Linked DNA regions of Homo sapiens: region 2 is linked to region 1. The links come from fine-mapping of genetic effects on gene expression. A gene starts in region 1. The other region holds a variant in brackets. All regions are shown on one strand. Distances are from middle to middle. Region 1 holds the start of LIN37 (lin-37 DREAM MuvB core complex component). Region 2 overlaps PRODH2 (proline dehydrogenase 2).

The links.
Region 2: its variant is fine-mapped to the expression of LIN37 in breast (GTEx, PIP 0.90).

The regions. Positions count from the first base shown.
Region 1 is chr19:35,747,222-35,750,128 of GRCh38, forward strand. It overlaps LIN37 (lin-37 DREAM MuvB core complex component), which reads left to right and starts at 1,355. Exons shown (of 9, transcript NM_019104.3): 1 at 1,355-1,537. The coding sequence starts at 1,504. It overlaps PSENEN (presenilin enhancer, gamma-secretase subunit), which reads left to right. Exons shown (of 4, transcript NM_172341.4): 4 at 1-298. RefSeq lists enhancers at 609-1,123, 1,025-1,084, 1,124-1,638, 1,485-1,604.
Region 2 is chr19:35,799,889-35,802,795 of GRCh38, forward strand. It overlaps PRODH2 (proline dehydrogenase 2), which reads right to left. Exons shown (of 10, transcript NM_021232.2): 9 at 2,303-2,388; 10 at 100-334. The coding sequence ends at 150. Among named protein-coding and RNA genes, the nearest start is that of PRODH2, 12 kb to the right of the region's middle. The variant C/T (reference allele first, on the strand shown) is at 1,210.

The DNA of each region.
Region 1 (2,907 bases):
TTTTCTTTTTTTTTTTTTTTTTTGAGACAGAGTCTTGCTCTGTCAGCCAGGCTGGAGTGCAGTGGTAGGATCGGCCTAGTGCTTCCATTTCTAGGGGCTGTTATCCTGTACTGGTAGTCGTGAATTCAAAAATATAACTTTCCTACTGTGGGCTGCAGTATTCTCATCAGAAGTGTAGATCACGATGCTACTTCCTGGGATTTATCTGGACCAAGACGTGTGACAAATGGAAGTTTCCCGTTTTCTGAAGGAAGTGTTGTCTGCAAAAATAAAAATAGTCAAGAGCTTTCTCAGAGAATCCTTCCTTGACCATCCATCTTATTTAAAATTCAATCACCACCTTGATATTCCTATGTCCCTTTCAGGCTACACTTTTTTTGTGGGTTTTTTTTTTGGGGGGGGAGAGGGGTTTGTTGTTGTTGTCTGTTTGTTTTTCTAGATGGAGTCTTGCTCTGTCACCCAGGCTGGAGTGCAGAGGTCCGATCTCGGCTCACTGCAACCTCCGCCTCCCGGGTTCAAGCGATTCTCCTGCCTCAAACTCTCGAATAGCTGGGATTACAGGCGCATGCCACCATGCCCGGCTAATTTTTGTATTTTTAGTAAAGACTGGGTTTCACCATGTTGGCCAGGCTGGTCTCGAACTCCTGGTCACAGGTGATCTGCCTGCCTAGGCCTCCCAAAGAGCTGGGATTTACAGGCGTGAGCCACCATGCCCCGCCCAGATCATATTCTTTCTCCTATTACATTTCACTTAAAATTTACTTGTTTACTGTTTATCTTCCCTCCTTTAAAAGATAAGCTCCATTAGCGCAGGGATTTTTGTCTATTCTGTTCCTCAAGGTGTCTCCAATGCCTAGAAGAGTGCCCGACACACTAATAAATATTTGCAAAATGAATGAAGTTGTACCTGCAAAGAGATTAACAGATACCTGGCACCTAGCGAGTGCTCAGTGAGAGGGAACCCAACGTTATTTTACATTAGTCTTCCTCTTAGGGATGAAGGGACCCCAACGGTTGGTTAAATCCGGTAAAGAGCTAACTTGGTGTTGCTCAACCCTTCTCACACTACAAGTCCCGGGAAGCCTCGCGATGCCCTAATCCTTTGTTTCCCACCGTGCCCCGCGCGGCGCAGGCGCTGTTACTCAGGGTGAGTCTGGGAAGCTGGAACTACACCTCCCAGGAAGCTAGGGGGTAGATGGTTTGTTTCCGGAAGCAAAGCCCCAGGTGGGTGGGACCTAAAGCTGGGAGACTACGGAGGCAGCTCTCAATTGGTCAGGATGCGAGATTGACGGCTGCAATAACTAATAGGAACAAGCTACTGCCGAAGGGGCCCGCCCACAGAAGGGTGGTGGCCACGGTCCAGGCTGGACACAACCAAAGGCGGAGGACCCGTGGCCCACGAAGCTCATCTTTGAACTGTCCCCGCCTTCTCCCGCCTTGACTTGTGACCCTAGGCCCTTTGGGGCGCCTCTGACCCAGCTAGCCAGATCCCGGACCCAAACCATGTTCCCTGTGAAGGTGAAAGTGGAGAAATCAGGTGAGGACCCTGACGTCGGGGGCCTGTCGGGACCATCGGGTTGACAGGGTGTGGAGTCCCGGTGGAAGGGAGTATCGCGGAAAGGGGACTGCACGACTTTTCCCTGAAGCCCACCTGACAATCGCTGTATCAGGCAGCGAGCGTTGCCTGCCACCTTCACACCCTCCCGGTGTGCGCTTGAAGTCGCTTTGAGATTGAATGGGGTGGCTCGGGCAATGACGTGCGTGGTAGGACATGGGGAATCCTGAGCCGGTAACTCTGAGAAGGGCCCTTTTCTTTCCTCTTTTTTTTAATTTAAATTTTTAAAATATTTAAATAGAGACGGAGTATCGCTATATTGCCCAGGCTGGTCTCGAACTCCTGGTCTCAAGCGATCCTCCCGCCTTAGCCTCCCAAAGTGCTGAGATTACAGGCGTGAGTCCCCGCGCCCAGCCGAGAAGTTCTCTTTTCTTGGCTTCCCCTCAGTTTCCCCATTTCCAGCAGTGATCAGAGTCACACATCTTGCTGTGAGCCTGAAGTACAGGCACTCTTAATCCTCACAGTCACTATATTCCAGTAATCCTAGAAAATAGGAACTGTGGTCAATGGGTGAAGCTTAGAAAGAGGAGAGAATTTTGGGTTGGGGCGGAGCTGACCGGATCCCAGGCCTGGCATGGTAAGGGCAGTGGGAGGGGTGCAGAATTTAGACAGAAAGATAATAGTAAAATGATGTAGGATGTCCCATGGCAAAAGTGTTATTAAAACAAAGTGGGAGGCTGGGTGCGGTGGCTCACACCTGTAATCCCAACACTTTGGGAGGCCGAGGCTGGCAGATCACTTGAGGTCAGGAGTTTGAGACCAGCCTGGGCAACATAGCGAAACGCTGTCTCTATAAAAAATACAAAAAAAAAAAAAAAATTAGCCAGGTGTGGTGGCACAAGCCTGTAGTCCCAGCTACTCAGGAGGCTGAGGCAGGAGGATCGCTGGAGCCGGGGAGGCGGAGGTTGCAGTGAGCTGAGATCACACCACTGCACTCCAGCCTGGGTGATAGATTGAGACCCTGTCTCAAAAAAAAAAAAAAAGAAAGGAAAAGAAAAGAAAGAAAGAAAAGAGAAGTGGGTGTGACCACAAATGATGGTGAGGGAAGGTGTACACCTGTGAGTGCCAGGCTGAGGAGTGCAGACTCCACCCCTGGGTGCTGTGGAGTCATGGAAGTTTCCAAGCAAGGGAAGATCAGGGTCAGGTTTGTTATTTTTCAGGAAGATTCCCCTGGCTGCCTTGTGGAGGGTGTATCAGAAGGGGGACACTGAGGCAGGGAGCCAAGGGGGAGCAAAGGACAGGACCAGGATGGGTAGAGTAGGGAGGAGGTGGGTGGGAGAGACACTCGGGAG
Region 2 (2,907 bases), 53 kb after region 1:
CCTAACGATCTCTCTTGAACTGCAAAACCCCTAGCTTGGGCTGGCTGAGGTCAAGATGAGCCCTTCCCCAAGGAGGCGGCGTCAGTGCAGGACAGCAGCTTAGGCAGCACCTAAGGACTTTTATTGACCACATGACCCCCTCAGGGGTGCTAGTGGGGTATCCTTCGGCATCCTGGCAGCAGCCGCCGCCACAGTTCTTGGCTGAGCAGCTCCTGTTCCCTGCGGGCACCCTGAAGCACGCTCCGGTTCTCCTGGGCCCTCCGGATCAGGTAGGGGATTACCTCCTCCAAGGAGCCATAGGGAATGGACTTATACACTACATAGCCGGCCTGCCCTGCAGGGAGAGTGGGTTTTGTTTTTTCGTTTTTGGTGTTTTTCTGAGACAGAGTCTCGCTCTGTTGCCCAGGCTGGAGTGCAGTGGTGCAATCTCAGCTCACTGCAAGCTCTGCCTCCAGGTTCAAGCGATTCTCATGCCTCAGCCTCCAGAATGGCTGGGATTATAGGCGCTTGCCACGACGCCCGGCTCATTTTTGTATTTTTAGTAGAGATGGGGTTTCACCATGTTGGCCAGGCTGGTCTCGAACTCCTGACCTCAAGTTATCCTCCTGCTTTGGCCTCCCAAAGTGCTGGGATTACAGGCGTGAGCCACCATGCCCAGCCTGGAGTGTTGACAGGGTATGGGCTTGGGCTGGGGGGACACTCCCCAGTCCCCACCTGGAACAGAGACTTCTGTTTCTGAGAACATGGCAGATTAAGTGAGTTGGATAAAATTTCTAACTGAAAAAGCTAAAAGTCCTGGAGCAAACTTTTTTTTTTCTCTCTTAGACAGGGTCTAGCCCTGTGGCCCAGGCTGGAGTGCAGTGGTGTGATCACGACTCACTGCTGCTTTGACCTCCCAGGCTCAAACAATCCTCCCACCTCAGCCTCCTGAATAGCTGGGACCACAGGCATGCACCTCCACGCCCAGCTAACTGTTTTTATTTTATCTCAATTGATTAATTAATTAATTAATTAATTTTGAGACAGAGTCTTGGTCTGTCGCCCTGGCTGGAGGGCAGTGGCACAATCTCAGCACACTGACCAACCTGGCCAACATGGTGAAACCCCGTCTCTACTAAAAATACAAAAATTGGCTGGGCATGGTGGTGCGTGCCTATAATCCCGGCTACTGGGGAGGCGGAGGCAGGAGAATCACTTGAACCCAGGAGG[C/T]GGAGGTTGAAGTGAGCTGAGATCGTGCCACTGCACTCAAGTCTGGGCGACAGAGCCAGACTCTGTCTCAAAAACAAAATAAATAAGCTGGGCGTGGTGGCTCACGCCTGTAATCCCAGCAACTCTGGGAGGCCAAGGCAGGCAGATCACCTGAGGTCAGGAGTTTGAGACCAGCCTGGCAAACATGGTAAGACCCCATCTCTACTAAAAATACAAAAATTAGCTGGGCGTGGTGGCAGCCGTCTGTAATCCCAGCTACTTGGGAGGCTGAGGCAGGAGAATCGCTTGAACCTGGGAGGCAAAGGTTGCAGTGAGCCAAGATGGCACCACTGGACTCCTGCCTGGGTAACAGAGCAAGACTCTGTCTCAAAATAAATAAATAAATAAAATAAAATAAAAGAGAAAATGAGAACCCAGAGAGAGAAGAGACACACAGCAAGCCACTTCTGCCCCAAAAGCAAAACCGAGGTGCTATCTGATGAATTCACAGAGTTGCGGGGGGACATTGAGTCAGTCTTCAAGCCTGAGGTGAGAGTTATAAGGGAGAACTTCCCCAAGTTAAGCTGGAACCCAAAAATCTACACCCTTAGAGTAAGAGTTAATAAAAAGTCAACCCTGCAACCTTCCCCCAGTCCCAGGAAATGGTCTTGGCCATAAACAGATCAAGGAAGAAAACAGAAAAATCCACCTCTGCGAAGTTGGGGCTATGGGTTAACCCCCTTATGTATTTGCAGCTCAAATTTGTGCCAGTGGGGTGTTTCAAGAAACCTCAAGCTATGAATTTAGGATAAAGTGATTTCGTTCTGCTTAGCACCTGGCAGAAGGAAACATTAATTACCTGGTGTCAGGCCCTGAGGAGCAGCACAGTAAAGATAACAAAACACACAAGAAATAATACACCATGATCAAGAACCAGCAGAAATGACAGACGGCAGACACAGAGACACAGCCTTGGAAGGCCCACAGACACTGGAATGACAGATCTCTCTGGAAGGATCTGGAGGCTGGGCCTTGGTTGGGAATAGGAGAAGGGCTCTGGCTGGGAGGGAGTAAGGCCTGGGGCTTGATGGGGGTGGGGGAGCCATTCACATACCCAGTGCTAGAGAGACGTGGTCACACATGCCCAGAAGTTGTCCGAAACAGACAGTCCCATCCAGAGGAATGCCCAGCTCCCACATGCTACAGAAAAGGCCACATCATCAGTCCAGACTGTGGCTGCATCTACAGCTTAAAGTCAGCCACTATGCACCCATATGGCGGCTCCAGTAATTCAAACATTGAAGTATTTCCAAACTCAATGATACATAATAACCAGTCCTTTGCATTCCTTGAAGGTCCCCCAGTGACTCCCAGCCAGTTCCCTGGAGCCCTCAGACCTCCTCATGCCCCAGCAAATAAGGGGCAACGTCTTGTCCATCTGGGACCTATAAGGACTTACAGGTATAGCAGGGGTTAATGTGTTTGTTTGTTTGTTTGTTTTAAGAGGTAGGGACTTGCTTTGTTACCCAGGCTGGAGTGCAGTGGCTCAAGCACTGCTCACTGCAGTCTCAACCTCTTGGGCTCAAGTGATCCTTCCACCTCCGGAATAGCTGGGACTACAGGTGTGCGCCACCACACCCAGCTGTTTTTTTTTTTTTAATTTGTTGTAGAAATGGGGTCTTGCTGTGTTGCCCAGGCTGGTCTCAAACAATCCTCCAC